2 separate regions of the Homo sapiens genome follow, and region 1 is linked to region 2. The links come from fine-mapping of genetic effects on gene expression. Tissue or cell type: whole blood. Region 2 holds a variant in brackets; the other region holds the start of a gene. All regions are shown on one strand. Distances are from middle to middle.

Region 1 (8,182 bases), 37 kb before region 2:
GCAAGAGGATCGCTGCAGCCCAGGAGTTTGAGACCAGCCTGGGCAACAGAGAGACCCCCTGCCACCCCCAATCTTTACAAAAAAATTTTTAAAAAATTAGTCAGGCATGGTGGTGCATGCCTGTAACCTAGCTATTCTGGAAGATGAGATGGGAGGATTGCTTGAGCCTTTGAGAGCAAGGCTGCACTGAGCCATGATTCAGCCACTGCACTCTAGGCTGGATGACACAGTAAGTCCTCTTTCCAAAAAGGGAGAAGGGAGGAGAAGAAGAAAGAAGAGAGGAGGAGGAGGAAGAACAGGAGGAAGAGGAAGAAGAAGGAAGAGGAAGAAAGAAGAAAAGAAGAAAGAAGAGAAAGAGAAGGGAGGAGGGAGGAGGAGTAGCTGCATGAAACTTAAAAGGAATGCCTGAAAGGTAGACAGAGGAAACACGCACAGTCTGTTGTCACAGAAGGCAGGAATGATGGAGAGTGTTTATACTAAGTCAAACAATTGAAAAATGAACACTGGGCTGGGCGCAGTGGAGGACACCTGTAATCCCAGCACTTTGGGAGGCCAAGGCAGGTGGATGACTTGAGATCAGAAGTTTGAGACCAGCCTGGCCAACATGGTGAAGCTCTGTCTCTACTAAACATACAAAAATTAACCGGGCGTGGTGGCCAGCACGTGATGCCAGCTACTCAGGAGGCTGAGACAGGAGAATCGTTTCAATCCGGGAGACGGAGGTTGCAGTGAGCCGAAATCACCCCACTGCACACCAGCCTGGGTGACAAAGTTAGACTCTACCTCAAAAAGTTAAAATAAATAAAATTTTTAAAATGGACATCATGTATCAGACAGGAAAAAGCCAGTAAGACGGAAGAACTCACACCCTCGGGATCCCAAGACAAGATACTTCCATGGGATGGATGTAATGAACAGTGTTAAAAGATTTCTGGTGCAGTGCTTCTCAAAGTGTGATGTACACATAAATGACCTGGGGGTCATATTAAAATGCAGATTTTGGCTACACAGGTCTTGGGTAGGACCTGAGACCTGGCTTTTCTCAGAAGACCCCAGGTGATGCCCATGCTGCACAGCCCACAGACCACATGTTGAGTAACAAGGTTCTGCTGTGGTTCCCAAACTTTTCCGAGCACAGAATTATCTGGAAAACTTCTGTACTAGTCCATACAGCTATACATACTGCTATAAAGGATACTGCTACAAAGAATGCCCAAGACTGGGTAATTTATAAAGGAAAGAAGTTTAATTGACTCACAGTTCAGCATGGCTGGGGAAGCCTCAGAAAACTTACAAACATGGCAGAAGGCAAAGGGGGAAGCAAGGCACTTTCCTCACAAGGAGGCAGGAAGAAGTGCTGAGCGAAGAGGCAAGATCCCCTTATAAAACCATCACATCTTGTGAGAACTCACTATCATGAGAACAGCATGGGGGAAGCTGCCTCCATAATTCAATTACCTCCACCTGGTCTCTCCCTTGAAAGGTGGGGATTATGGGAATTACAATTCAAGATGAGATTTGGGTGTGGACATAAAGCCTAACCATATCAACTTCTTAAAGATTAGTGGTCCCCTAGCCCTACAGATTCTAAATTGAGTAGGCGTGGGGTAGGGCCTGATAACATGCATTTCTTAACAACCTCCCAAGTGATGGTGACAGTGACGCTGCAGATCCCCAGACCACACTTTTGAGATGCACAGCACAACTATTTGTGGCCCTGGCAGAGACAACCAGGGAGACTATTTAGGCTTCTAAACCTACTGCAAACCGGAAGTCTTGCTATATACCACCACTGCAGTCACAGTCCATTACAGGAGCCCATTCCTTTTATAGTACCTCCCTGGCTCCGGGCTCATATGGCCAGAAGTGTGAGCAAGGACCTACACTCATTATCCATCACCTCCATGGTTACTTTATCAGAACCAAAGACTCATTCTTAATTGGCTTATTCTCCCCAAGACTTACTCTCAGCAGTAGGTCCTACTTAGGAAAAGTCTCAAAGCTTCATCTTGCTTAGGAATGTCTTTTCATAGTATTAAAAAAAGCAGCTACTGCTGAATTCTACTTTCTTTTTAACTAAGCGATGATATTTCACAATGGTCACATTTCCCCCAGAGTGAAACAACTTGAGAGAAAAAAAAAAACCTATAAAATAAGAGGGAAATCCTATTTAAGGGGAACTCAATTCACCTATGTATTCATGAAACAGACACATGCACATAAAGGCATCTTAACGTGAAAAATAAACATACAGTCCTTGCCCTCAAGCCAGGCGACAGAAAAGCTACCAACAACCAGGCTGAAACAAGACAAATGCCATCTGAAAAAACAGCTGACATTTGTTTCTATCAAAGCCATCCAGCAGATACCTCAACATCTTTCCACAGAACGTGTGCTCTTTACTAACAACCGACACACAAAGGAGGACGATCTCCAACAGAGGTGACTAGGAAAGGCTTCCTGGATGGCGTAATTTAGTGTTGGAGTCAGACCAATGAGCCGCCTTTTCACGGGTGGAGGTCCCAGATGGCCATCCCTTTAACAAAAATCAATTAACATGTAAATTATGTACTGACAAATACAACGTTTGATGGGCCCGCTGCAGTGGCTAAAGCCTGTAATCCCAACATTTTGAGAAGCTGAGGCAGGAGGCCTGCTTGAACTCAGGAGTTTTAGACCAGACTGGTCAACACAACGAGACCCCATCACTATAAAAATTAAAATGAATCTCAGCTACTCAGGAGGCTGAGGAAGCAGGGTCACTTGGGCACAGGGGACTAAGGTTGCAGTGAGCTACGATCACACCACTGCACTCCAGCCTGGACGACAAAGCAAGACCCCCATCTCTACGAAAAATTTAAAAATTAGCTGGGCATAGTAGTGCGAGCCTGTGGTCCCAGCTACTCCGGAGGCTGAGGCGGGAGGATCGCTTGCGCCCAGGAGGCCGAGGTTGCAGTGAGCCGTGATAGCACCACTGCACTCCAGCCTGGGCGACAGACTGAGAGCCTCACCTGTAAAAAATAATTTTAAAAAAGGTTCCACCTAGTGTTTTCCGTGGTGTGACTAAGAAAAGTATCTAGAAATAAAGCACAGTCAGTACCTGCTCTCAAAAAACGGCTGCCAATCTAGTTTGGAGACAGAAAAATATACCCGACTGAGAACACAGAGGAGCCTGTTTTCGGAAGAGGGGCGTCTTTGGAGACGCAAAATCCTCTCCGCGGGACGCTGACGGGCAGTCGGTAAAGGACTTCCAAGCACTGGTCAGTGACAATCGGGCGCTGGGGCTTTGCCAAGGCCCGGAGGCGGCGCGCCAAACCGGGCAATGCGGGAAGCGGGGCAGGCCCGAGTGGCCCTACTGCTGCCGTCCCTACTGATCCCTGCGCATCCGCCACAGAGCAGGGAACGGCAGAAAGGAGGAAGGAGGGGGAGTTCCGTAAATCAGGCCCTCAGGGGCTCCCAGGCCCGCACCCCTCTCAAGCCCCGGGGACCACCGCGGAGCCGCTGCTCCGGGCCGTGCGGCTCGAGGCGAACCTGCCTCAGAGCCGCCGGGCCCTCCTATCCCGAGCCGTATCTCTAGCTCCGGCCTGAGGTGGCCGGCGACTGCGTGCGCAAACACAAGATCCGCACCCCACTCCCCGCCACTGCAGCTCCGCGGCCGCGCTCAGAGTCTCCGGAACAGACCGGACTCAATGCGGACCAGGCAAGCGGAAGTGTGCCGCTTCCTTCCGGCCAGCGCAGCACGAGACGAGGCGGGGAACCGCGGGAGGAGGCGGGGCCTAGTGTTGACGAACAGCTCCCGGGGCCTATGGGCGCGGGGGCAGCCGCCCGGCCTCTCCGGCGCGCCCCCTCCCCGGGGCTGTTGACGCCCCCCAGCCCCTCATTTCCACAAAGCTCCGCGGCGGTTCTGCCCTCCTTGTACCCGCGGCGCGCTGCGGCCCGTGGCGCGGCCCCGTTCCCGCCTAGCCCCGTCGGCCTCCTTCCCCTCCCGGAGCCGCGCGTGAGGACGGCTGAGGCCGCAGGTCTGTGGCGGCGCGCCGGGACGCGCGGGCGAGGGTCTACCGAGAGGGCGGGCGGGCGCCGGCGGAACCCTCGGCTACAGCCCCGAGCCCCTGGGGCCGCCCCTCCCCGCCGCGTGGCGCAGTCGGGGGGCGCGGCCGCGGCGTCGGGGCGTCGGGAGGGGCGGAGCGCGGGAGTGTCTGCCGGGACGCGGGCCGGGCTGGGCTCCGGAAGGACCAAGTTTGCGGAGCGGCTTCTGCTCGTCGGCCGTGCGGCGAGGCAGGGCCTGGGCTGCGACCCCGGCGGCCGCTCGCGGTCTTGGGAGAGCTGGGGCGCGTGCCTGAACTTCCCGGCTGCCCCTGTCCTTGGAGACCTACCTGATGGGGACGCCAGGTGTGCAGGGGCGTGGCGCGTAGGTAAGCGGACCCGGTGCCTGCCTCGTCCAGGGGATGCTCACTAGAGCGCTAGGCTTTTTTATTTTTATTTTTTAGAGACAGGGGTCTCGCTGTCTCGCCCAGGCTGGAGTGCAGTGGCGTTATCACGGCTCACTGCAACCTCGAACTCTTGGGCTCAAGCGATTCTCCCACCTCAGCCTCTGGAGTAGCTGGGACCACAGGCATGCACCACCGAGCCTGGCTATTTTATTGTATAGATAGGGTCTCGCTCTGTTCCCCAGGCTGGTCTCAAACTCATGGTCTGAAGTCATCCTCCTGCCTCAACCTCCCAAAGCGCTGGGATTACATGAGCCGCCTCGCCCGGCTAGCGCTAGTCGTCCTTATTAATAAAGAATCGCTTCTGGTCCCTTTTCAGTTGTTTACAATGGCATTCCTTTTGATCTGATGGAGGAACTTTTTTTCTTAGTTCATGGGACTGTTGCAGTGCCTGACACATAATTGGTACTTAAATATGTGTTGGTTTTCTGCCTTAACATATTAGAATATATGAATTGTTTAAAAAAGTCCTCTCACACTTAGGGAGGACTCTAGGATGAGGTCACATGGGGGATAAGCCCATCTGTGGCTGTAGGACTTTGTTAAACACTCCTCTTCTCCCTCTCTGTTCCAGATTCTCCATTTCCAGTGCTTGAAAGCACAGTACTTAAATCTGGCTTCCTGCTTTTTTTTTTTTTTTTGGTATGAATGAATACATGAATTGTATAATGTTAGTTGGTTTGTTCTGTAGAGCAAGTTACCCTTAGGAATTAATAAACTGTGGAAACAATCATGTCAGGCTACTAGTCACATTTAAGAAATAATTAGTAAGAGGCTGTTCATTATTCAGAGGAGTGAAGCAAGATGTTCTGGAGGACTGGAACCCGCTTACTCACTGCCACCACTCCCCCGCCTCCCACTTGCTGCTGCCAAACCAGGCTCCTGCTCCCCCCCACCCATTACTCCCACCGACGCTCCCTGGGATAGCAGCTGCCCTGATTGGCACACCCCCGCAGTCATCACCACTGAGGCGTATTCCTGAAGCTGCCAGTGTGAATTGTTTTATAGAACACTGGTGTTAAAATTCAGGTACCTGAGACAAAACAATATTTTAATTCTTCAAAATCCGGTTGTCAACACATTTACTATGGAGTATCTCCCACGTGGCCACTTCTGTGGGAGGTACTGAAGACCTACTACCGCCTATGGAAGTAGAAAATAATATACAACTGTGTAGTTACGTGACGCATTGCGTGGTAACTGCTATGGCTCAGGGAGGGAGAAGATCAGCCGGAACTGGAATGTCCCAAGATGTTCTGGAAGAAAAGCAGTGGCTCGTTTGTGTTGCTTACCTGTATTCCTGACTCCTGGCAGGGCCTGCTGTAGAGCACATGCTTCATGAATAAATATGATTGAGTTGAATAAATATTTGAATTGTGTTTTGAGTGTAGCTTTGAAGGCCAGCAACGATTTAGATGGCAAGATCGAGGGCAGGCTGGGCACAATGGCTCATTCATGTAATCCTAGCACTTTGGGAGTCCAAGGCGGGGAGGATCGCATGAGGCCAGGAGTTCAGTACCAGCCTGGGCAAGATAGGGAGACCCCATCTTTACAAAAAATAATTAGCCAGGTGTAGTAGCACATGCCTGTAGTCCAGATACTCGGGAGGCTGAGGTGGATCACCTGAGCCTGTGGAAGTAGAGGCTACAGTGAGCCGTGATGGTGCCGCTGCACTCCAGCCTGAGTGACAGTGAGACCCTGTCTTGGGGGGAAGAAAAAAAAAGGGAGGGCATGCTAATAGAGGGAAAATGGCATAAGTAAAGGCATTTCAGCATGGATGAGCACGGGGTGTGTTGGGGAGAAGGCACTGACGTTGATGGCCTGTTTATTGCTATCTAGGAGTGATTTGGAGAACAATGCATGTAAGTCTGACATCATGATGTCCATCCGGCAAAGAAGAGAAATAAGAGCCACAGAAGTTTCTGAAGACTTTCCAGCCCAAGAAGAAAATGTGAAGTTGGAAAATAAATTGCCATCTGGTAGGTGATTTAAACTAAAGCAGCAATTTGGGTTGCTTTTATTTCTGCATATTAAAATGTCACTCTCCAATAGGATAAAAATTTGGTGGGACCTAACAATTGAAACTTGTTGTAGTACCCTGATATTCTAATTGCAATTTGATTAGATTGATTTTACAGTTATGATTTGACAAAAGATGAAAGAGCTTTGATTAGAAGTGTTTGTCAGCTGTCTGTTCATTAACTTACGGTTCTTCCAATCTCATCCTTTGACTCTCTAGAGTAATGGTCCCCCCACCCACACCCCAGATTTTAGTCTCTCTCTAATTTTTCTGGTCGTGTATACTATTTACACCAGGCAACCTTACCTTGGGTGAGTTTCCATTAAGGTAGTGAAAGGTGGATCAACATTTTTTAAAAATTCTTTATAATTAGTCAAATTCCTGAAGTTTTCTTTTGCTTTTTTTTTTTTTTCTTTTATTGGTGGGAAAAGTAATCAGAACTTGGTCAGTTGTTTGTATAATGGTAAAGACTTGCTAAGTGATGCATCAGATAGCATTAATTACCAACTTCTTGCTTCCTGAGTAGCTTTTGTAACTAAAGCATGGTCAGGATTTTAAAAGTTAACATGAAAATCTTCATACCCATTAACCATTTTGGATATCTGACAGAATTTACATTATTTACAGCCATGTTAATTCTTACCAGCCAGGCTAGTAAAGCAATTCAGGGAAACAGTTTAACAAAAGTAATCTGTAATGGGAGGTCATGACACCTGGCTCAGCCATTAGCGAGTGATTAACACGTTTTGGATAATAGTACTTTCTGAACACCTTAAACAATGCAAAGAAAAAGAAATATACTCCCATCCTGAAACTAACACCAGTGGCACTGTCTTGCTGTCTTAATGTCATATTCTGCACATGTATACCCATAAGCATTCGTATACAGTTTTGCAAAATTGGGATCCACGTGCTGTTTTGTAGCTTGCTATTTTTCTCTTATTATGTTATGAACATGTCATAAGCCAGTTAACGTATTTTTGAAATATCATCTATGTAAAGTATTTTTATAGCTGCCACTGTAGAAGTGAAAGGTTTTCTTACCATTTGCTAATACAGACAGAACTGTGATCAATTTCCTTGTGGCCATATGTTTGTTTAAAACTTTATTTCCTTGGGGCATGTCTTAGTCCATTTCTGTTGCTATAAAGGAATACTTGAGGCTAGGTGATTTATAAAGAAAAGAGGTTTCTTTGCCTCAGGGTTCTGCAGACTGTATGAGAAGCATGGCACCAGCATCTGCCTCTAGTGAGACCTCAGGAAGCTTCCAGTCGTGGCAGAAGACTTAGGGGAGCCAGTGTGTAGAGATCACATGACCAGAGTAGAAGCAATTTCCAGGGAACACAGGATGTCAGGCTCTTTTTTAACCAACCAGCTCCCCTAGGACTAACAGAATGAAAACTCAGTACTGCTAGAATCTCACCAACCTGTTTATAAGGGCTCTGGTTCCATCACCACACCACCTCCCATTAGGCCCCACCTCCAACATTGGGAATCACATTTCATCATGAGATTTGGAGGGGCCGAATAGTCAAACCACAGCAGGGTACATGCCTAGATTGGGAATTACTGGCCAAATGGGATGCTCATTTTGGTGGCTTTTACTCACTGCTGCCATGTTGCATTCCAGAGAGGCACCAATTTATTCTTCTAGCAGCAATGTTTGAAGATGTCT
Region 2 (8,182 bases):
AAATACTGTCAATGACATATTTAAGACTCAAGTATAAAAAACACCAAAGAAATACAGAGAGAGGGAAAATGTGTATTGCCTCTTGACACTAATAAAGTGAGGGAGAAATGAAAGTAAGGGTTTGGCATGATACATTTGTGAGTTTAGGAGTAAGGCTAACCTGGGCTTGAACCCTAGGTGCTAAGGGCATACCCATGGACAGAGCACTTAAATGTTCTCTATGCCAATTTTATGTTACAGGGATGATGATGATGATGATGATGATGATGATAAGGACAATTATTGAGAACCAGTGGCCAGAATCTTAAGTATACTTGTCCTTAATGTAATATATCTTTCGTTGAGGAAGTCTTCGAGGAAATTATTGTAAAAACTATCACTTTGGCCATTTGTGTTTTCTTTTGTGCAGAATAGATACCACAAGAGTTGAGTTTACCATCCCACTGAGGGAGAACTGGGCGCTGCCATTCTTTGCAATTCAGATAGCAGCAATTACATATTTCCTGAGACCAAACTTACAGCCTCTTTCTGAAGTAAGTGTTTATAAAATTTCATATATTTTAATCCCCCAATTTTATATATGAAGCTTCAAAAAATGTGATGTGCTTAGTATCCCAATGCATGTGAATAGTTCTTATTCCATGACCAATTTTTAAACTTGAGTTAAATTAAGTTTTCTTTTCGTGAGCTTTTTTCTACTTTGCAAAGAAAATGTTTTCATTTTTGATGTTAAAAATGTACTCTACATAATCTACCCTTAAATAGTTGCAGCAAACCCACACACAATTTCTGCAAACTGTCAGAATTTTTAAGCCCTTGCTCTTGAGATGTGATTTGGTGCATTATCGCCTCCATAATAGTGTGGAATACACACACCGTATGTGAATATTTATATGCAAAGTGTCACTTTATGATAGTTAGAGCTTAAATAACAAATGCAAGGGTTTTCAGAGCAACAGTTTATGGTTTTTCTGTTTGGTTTATAGAGATACTGGCTGCTCTTGAGAAAACTTGTCTGCAAGGTTTTTTATTACTAGAGACATGTAAATTATACAAAGGTTTTCTTTTTACAGAGGCTGACACTTCTTGCCATTTTCATATCAACTTTTCTCTTTAGTCTGACATGGCAATTTAATCAATTTATGATGCTGATGCAAGCATTAGTGCTGTTCACACTGGACTCCCTGGACATGCTGCCAGCAGTGAAGGTGAGCTTTGCTTTCTTTTCTCACTTGAGATTTTGGCCATTTAGTGTTTTTATATCATAGAATGAGATGAAAATATGCAAGTACTTATGGATAAAATTGAAGCTGTTTCTTAGATCTGCTGTAAATTTGCTGTGGCCAATTGAAGCTGAGTAATTTATGAAGCCTAGTTTGACCATCTTAACTTTTATTCGCTTATTTTAAGTTAAAAAATGGAATGGATTTTATTTTGGGGCATAAATGCCTAGGTCAATTGTTATTTATAGAGATGACTTAAATTTTAAAATATAAGATAGCTCTTTTAAAATGTCTTACTGTGTACTGCCACTTTTAAAAAAGAAATCAATAGGTATATAACAGCTTTTTTGTAGTACTTTATAAAATTTTCATAGTCACATTTAACTAATATGGGATGTGAATCCCTGTTGACTGGCTGAAAGTCACATGTGAAATAAAGAAACCAGTATCTGTCTCCTAATGTCTGCTGCTGTCATTTAATCACATTTTTTCATGTGCAAAAATATGATTTTATGTATTGCGTACAGTTTTAAAATGGCTTATAGTTAGTATTCTAAAGTAGTAGTAACTTAAATATTTCCCAAGTATAATAAAATACTTTCTCCATATCTAAGGCAGCAGCATAGCCCAAGGATTTGTGCTCATTTATTCCATATCAAAGGAGATCCAGTAAGCTTCCATAACTGACTGAGTCTGAATTAAGAAACATAAAAGTCTACCAAGAAATACACATTGCCTGTCTACTGAGACACTGTAATAGAATGGGCACTACAGAAAATGCCAATATGTGTAATTCATTGTCATAGCCACAGTTTGCCTTTTAGCTTGGGAAACAAAGATCACAGACAACAAGAACAAGCAGACAAATGATAGCTGCTAATTAGCAATACTGATATATCTAAAAGAAGAAAAGTTATTTTTAGGCAGAGAAGTGTTTACAGAAGTAAGAAGCTAGAACTGGACCACCTAGATCACAAGTGAGGGTAGAATTTGGGTGGGATGTCAGGGGTGGGGGCAGAATAGGAAGGTGGAATGCAGCAAGAGCAAGTAGATAGGACTAAGTTTATATATGTATATGAAATGTTTAGTGTTTCTGCAGGTGTGCCAGTGACCACTCCTACACTGCTGGTAACCTATACACTCCTATAATCTTTCTTTAGTGTAGTTTCACAGTAGGTATCAAAAGCCTAAAAATGTATTTGCCTTTTCACCAACATTTCTACCCCTATAAGTTTGTCCTAAGTAAATAATCTGCCATGTTCATTTTAGTTGTATTGTAATAAGAAAAAGCTGGGCGGAAAAGATAAAAAGAAATAAAAAACTGGAAATGACTTGAGCCAATAGCAATAGGGTATACTTAAATAAATGATGGCATATCTATGCAATCAAATATTATATAACCATTAGTTCCCCCATATTTTTTTGAAAAAGCGAAACATAGAGAAAATGAGTAAAGGTTCTGGAAAAATACACAGTAAAGTATCAACAGTCAGCTACACGATTGATGTTCTGCATATTCTTTTTGTTCTTTAGATCTTTTGATTTTTTCTGATAATGAACATGTGTCTCTTTTTTTTTTTTTTTTTCTTTGAGATGGAGTCTCACTCTGTCTCCCAGGCTGGAGTGCAGTGGCGCGATCTTGGCTCACTACAACCTCCACCTCCTGAGTTTAAGCAATTCTCCTGCCTCAGCCTCCCAAGTAGCTGGGAATACAGGTGCATGCCACCACACCCGGCTAATATTTGTATTTTTAGTAGAGACAGGGTTTTGCCATATTGCCCAGGCTGGTCTTGAACTCCTGACCTCAAGGGATCCACCTGCCTTGGCCTCCCAAAGTGCTGGGATTATAGGTGTGAGCCACTGTGCCCATCTGAACATGTATCTCTTTTAAAATTAGAAAGCAAAGGTACTGTTTTGGCTCACATACACAACATTTTAAAATAATATAGCTAATTGATTTTTTATTTAGTTCTAAACTTTGTTCAACTTTTACATTTGAAACTGTGTTGGTATTAGAAGTAGTTTTAAGTATCAGACTTTAAGGAGGAACATTATTACAATGAAAGGATCCTGAGTTATAAAACTAAATTGCTGCTGTCAGGTCTGAAAATAACTGGCTCTTTCAGCTTAGGCAAGTGATTTAACTTAGTTTCTTCATAAATTAGAATCACTTCTCTCTAACCATGTCAAATGGGAAAGAGTCAGAATAATTGGTATAGAAAAAGGTAATACAAATTCAGAGCTCAGTGTGGTGACAAGAAGCAGTACCTTCTACAGTACATTTTGTCATCTTTTCATGAATGATGAAACTCTTACCAGCAAAACCTCAAGTTTCCAGTCAGAAATGTGAACAGAGTAAAACAGAACAGCAAGCATATTATAAAGTGTATACTTTTGCTTAATTAAAGGCTAAAATATGGAGGTTAATAAAGTTTTCTTAATCTATTGTGGAAACAGACGCATTCATGATAAATGCTTAAGAGATCATGTTAAGTACCCTACATGGTTCCAGACAAGAGGGAGTAGAGACATTTCTCCCCGTTCCTCCCCAAAGTACATTGAAAAACCTTAGACAGTATATGTATATAACAAACATAAGAGGAATTTGAGAGGTAGAGAGAAGCAGACTGCCTAGGGACCTTGCGACCAGAGGGAAAATTTGACAGCGAGTTTCTTGGGTTTTCTTTTTGCCCCATATATCCTTGACTGGGTGCTGGAGAAGTCAGAAACCTGGGAATAACAATGGACTCAAACAAAAAGCCTCCTCCCTCTAGCAAAAGGACCAGAAGAGAGGAAGCCTAACAAGACAGAAAACTTTCAAACATTAACTGCCTTATTCTAGCGAAATGCTACAGAAGCAAAACCACAGCTCCACTCCCACCTCCATCAGTAAAGTTCAGTGGGAAGCCTAGATTCCTACCCTCACCTAGCTGTCACTAGGCATGCCTTGCTTCCTGCCAGAGCTATGTCAGAGAAGTCTAGTGGGGAACCAGAACTTTCACCATCTCCCAGAGACATCTGTGAAGGCCACTTGGGAAACTTGGACTTCAACTCTCACTCAGTGGTAATGAGACATCCTGTCCCCTCTCTATCAGGATGGTGTCAGAGAAGGTCAACAGGGAGGTTGAGACTCTAACCACCACCCAGATGTAATAAGCCTTTCTCTACTGCCCTACCCCATGCTGTCGGTGCAGGCCATGTAGGGAGCAGTGGTGACGCACCTCTGTTTCTCCCAGCCAGCATGTGTCAGCAGGGACCTGTAGAGAGCCTGAACTTTCGCCTTCACCCAGCAATAAGGAAGTACACCTTCTGCTGACCCCCAGATGTCAGTGGAGGGCAAGTGGGCACCTTGGACTTCCATTTCCGTCTGAAAGTACTGAGGCAGCACCCTTCTTTCCCCATTAGCATAGCGTTGGCATAGTTTGAATGTTTTTGTGGTCCCCCACCAAATTTATATGTTGAAACCCAAATCCCCAAGGTGATTGTATTAGGAGGTAGGTAGGGCCTTTTAGAAGGTGATTAGTGCCATTATAAAACAGGCACAAGGGAGCTGTTTCACCCCTTTCACCATGTGAGGAGGACACAGCAAGAAAGTGCCATCAGTGAACCAGGAAATAAGCCCTCACCAGCCACTGAATCTGCCAGTTCCTTGATCTTGGACTTGCCAGCCTCCGGAACTATGAGAAGTAACTTTTTTGTTGTTTATAAGCTACCCAGATTACGGTATTTTGTTAGATAACAGCCTAAATGGACCAAGACACATGGTGTCACAGGAGGCCTGCTAACATGGCAGATTTAAATAAGATCCAGGGTCCCATAATGTAATAGGATACAGTTAAAAATCACTTCTTAGGCCGAGCGCAGTGGCTCATGCCTGTAATCTCAGCCCTTTGGGAGGCCAAGGCAGGCAGATATTTGAAGTC[A/G]GTTTGAGATCAGCCCGGGCAACATGGTGAAACCCCGTCACTACTAAAAATACAAAAATTAACTGGCTGTGGTGGCATGTGCCTGTAATCACAGCTATTCAGGAGGCTGAGGCAGGAGAATAGCTTGAGCGAGCCAAGATGGGGCCACTGCATTCCAGCCTGGGCAACGGAGCAAGACTCTGTCTCAAAAAAAAAAAAAAGAAAAAAAAATTCTTATATTAAGAATTAGGAAAATCTCTCTTGAGTGAAAAGAGACAATCAATAGATGCTAACACTGAGATACACAGAAATTGGAATTATCTTACAAGGAATTTAAGGCAGCCATCATAAAAAAAAAGCTTCATTGAGCAATTACGAACACACTTGAAACAAATGAAAATACAAACTCTAAGCAAAGAAGTAGAAGATACAAAGAAGAAGCAAGTGGAAATTTTAGAACAGAAAAATTCCAGTAATCGAAGTTTAAAACTCAGTGGATGGACTCAACAGCAAAATGAAGTAGTCAGAGGAAAGAATCAGTGAACTTGAAGATAGAACAATTTAGAAATTACCTAATCTGAACAACAAGAAAAAATAGAATGAAACAAAAATGAACAGAGCCTCAAGGACCTGTGAGACTATAATGAAAAGTCTAACATTCAGGTAATCAGAATCCCAGAAGAAGACAAGAAAAGAGTTTACTGAAGCTGAAAAAAGTATGCAAAGAAATACTTTCGGAAAAAATAGTTGAAATTTCCTCAAATTTGGCAAAAGCTATAAACCTTCAGAATCAGCAAGCTGAACTAATATCAAACAGGATAAATCCAAATAGAGCCACACTAAGACACATTATAATCAAACTTTTGGAGACTAAAGATAAATTTTAAAAAATTGAAAGTAGTCAGAAAAATACTGTACCTATAGGGGAAAACCAATTTAAATGACAGTGAATTCCTCATCAAAATCAAGGAGGGGCTGGGCACAGTGACTCACGCCTGTAATCCCAGCACTTTTGGAGGCTGAGGCTGGTGGATTGCTTGAGCCCAGGAGTTTGAGACCAGCCTGGGCAACATGATGCAACCCCATCTCTATAAATAATAATAATAATAAAATGATTAGCCAGGCATGGTAGCAACGTGCCTGAGGTCTCAGATACTTGGGAGGCTGAAGTGGGAGAAATTGAGGCTTCAGTGAACTGTAATTGCACCACTGCATTCTAACCTGGGCAACAGAGCAAGACCCAGTCTCAAAAAAAAAAAAAAAAACAAAAAACAATGGAGGCCAAAAGGAAGTGGCCTAGTATTTTCAGATGCAGAAAAAAAGAACTGTCAAGGCTGGGTGCAGTGGCTCACGCCTGTAATCCCATTACTTTGGGAGGCCGAGGCAGACGGATCATGGGGTCAGGAGATAGAGACCATCCTGGCTAACATGGTGAAACCCTGTCTCTACTAAAAATACAAAAAATTAGCCAGGCATGGTGGCAGGCGCTTGTAGTCCCAGCTACTTGGTAGGCTGAGGCAGGAAAATGGCGTGAACCTGGGAGGCGGAGCTTGCAGTGAGTCTAGATCGCGCCACTGCACTCCAGTCTGGGGGACAGAGCGAGACTTCATCTCAAAAAAAAAAAAAAAAAAAAACCATCAACCTACACTCCTATACCTAGTTAAAATGTCCTTCAGGAATGAAAGGGAAATCAAAACATTCTCAATTAAGGAAACTAATATTGCCAGCAGTCCTACCGTAAGAGAATAGCTAAAGGAAGTTGTTGAAACAGAAAGGAAATGATAAGGAATTTAAGAGCATCAGAAAGGAAGACAAGGCAATGAAAAAAGTAAAAATGTGAATAAATATAACAGACTTTTCTTATTCTCTTGAGTTTCTAAATTACGTTTGAGGCTGGGCGTCGTGGCTCACACCTGTAATCCCAGCACTTTGGGAGGACGAGGTGGGTGGATCACCTGAGGTTAGGAGTTCGAGACCAGCCTGGCCAACATGGCGAAACCCCATCTCTACTACAAATACAAAAATTAGCCAGGTGTGATGATGGGTGCCTGTAATCCCAGCTACTCAGGAGGCTGAGGCTGGAGAATTGCTTTGAACCTAGGAGGCGGAGGTTGCAGTGAGCCGAGATTGTGCCATTGCACTCCAGCCTGGGAGACGAGTGAAACTTCGTCTCAAAAAAAAAAAATTATATTTGATAGCTGAAGCAAAAATTATAACACTGTCTTATGTGGTTCTCTATATGTAAAAGAAATACTTTAACAATATAAATGGGAAGGGTAATGAGACTTAAATGGAGGTTAGGGTTCTATGCCTCACTCAAACAGTTAAAATGTCTATACCACTAGTCCGTAATAAGTTATTAATGCATAATGTAATAGCCAGAATAACCACTTTAAAAAACTATACGAAGCAGTACATGAAAAAACAGTACAGATAAATAAAAATGAAATTGTAAAAATGTTCAGGTAACCTACAGGAAGGCAGGAAGAAGGAAGCAGGAATTAGAAGCAAGCAAACAAAAAAGAATAAAAGAGCAGATTTAAGACTAAAATAGCAATAATTACATTAAAGGTAAATGATCTAAATATACTAATTAAAGAGATGGCAGGGTGGATTTAAAAAGCATGACCCAGCTGTTGTCTAAAACACACTTCAAACACAACAATATAGATAAATTGAAAGTAAGAGGATGGAAAAAGATACAACATGCAAGTATCAATCAAAAGAAAGGAGTAGCTATGTTAATATCAGAGAAAGTAGATATCAGAGCAAAGAAAATTACTAGGGACAGAACAGAACATTATATAATGATAAAACGTTCAATGTACCAAGAAGAAATAGCAATCCTAAGTGTACCTGCACCAAACAACAGTACTGCAACGTGTGTGGGGCAAAAACTGACAGAACTGAAAGGAGAAATAGAAAAATTCACAATCGCAGTTTGAGACTTCAGCACATCTCTCTGGACAATTGATAGAACACCAGACAGAAAATCATCAGAGATATAGAACCCAACAACACCTTCAACCGACAGAATCTAATGATCATTTATAGAAA

What was found. PIP is the estimated chance that this variant, and not a neighbour inherited with it, causes the effect.
Region 1: it holds the start of DPY19L3, and the variant in region 2 is fine-mapped to the expression of DPY19L3 in whole blood (TOPMed, PIP above 0.99).

What each region holds. Positions count from the first base shown.
Region 1 is chr19:32,401,891-32,410,072 of GRCh38, forward strand. It overlaps DPY19L3 (dpy-19 like C-mannosyltransferase 3), which reads left to right and starts at 3,880. Exons shown (of 19, transcript NM_001172774.2): 1 at 3,880-4,019; 2 at 6,327-6,466. The coding sequence starts at 6,364. DPY19L3-DT (DPY19L3 divergent transcript) reads right to left here and starts at 3,649. Exons shown (of 3, transcript NR_046201.1): 1 at 3,101-3,649. RefSeq lists silencers at 3,432-3,481, 3,512-4,261.
Region 2 is chr19:32,438,703-32,446,884 of GRCh38, forward strand. DPY19L3 (dpy-19 like C-mannosyltransferase 3) reads left to right here. Exons shown (of 19, transcript NM_001172774.2): 7 at 410-533; 8 at 1,074-1,208. Among named protein-coding and RNA genes, the nearest start is that of DPY19L3, 37 kb to the left of the region's middle. The variant A/G (reference allele first, on the strand shown) is at 5,147.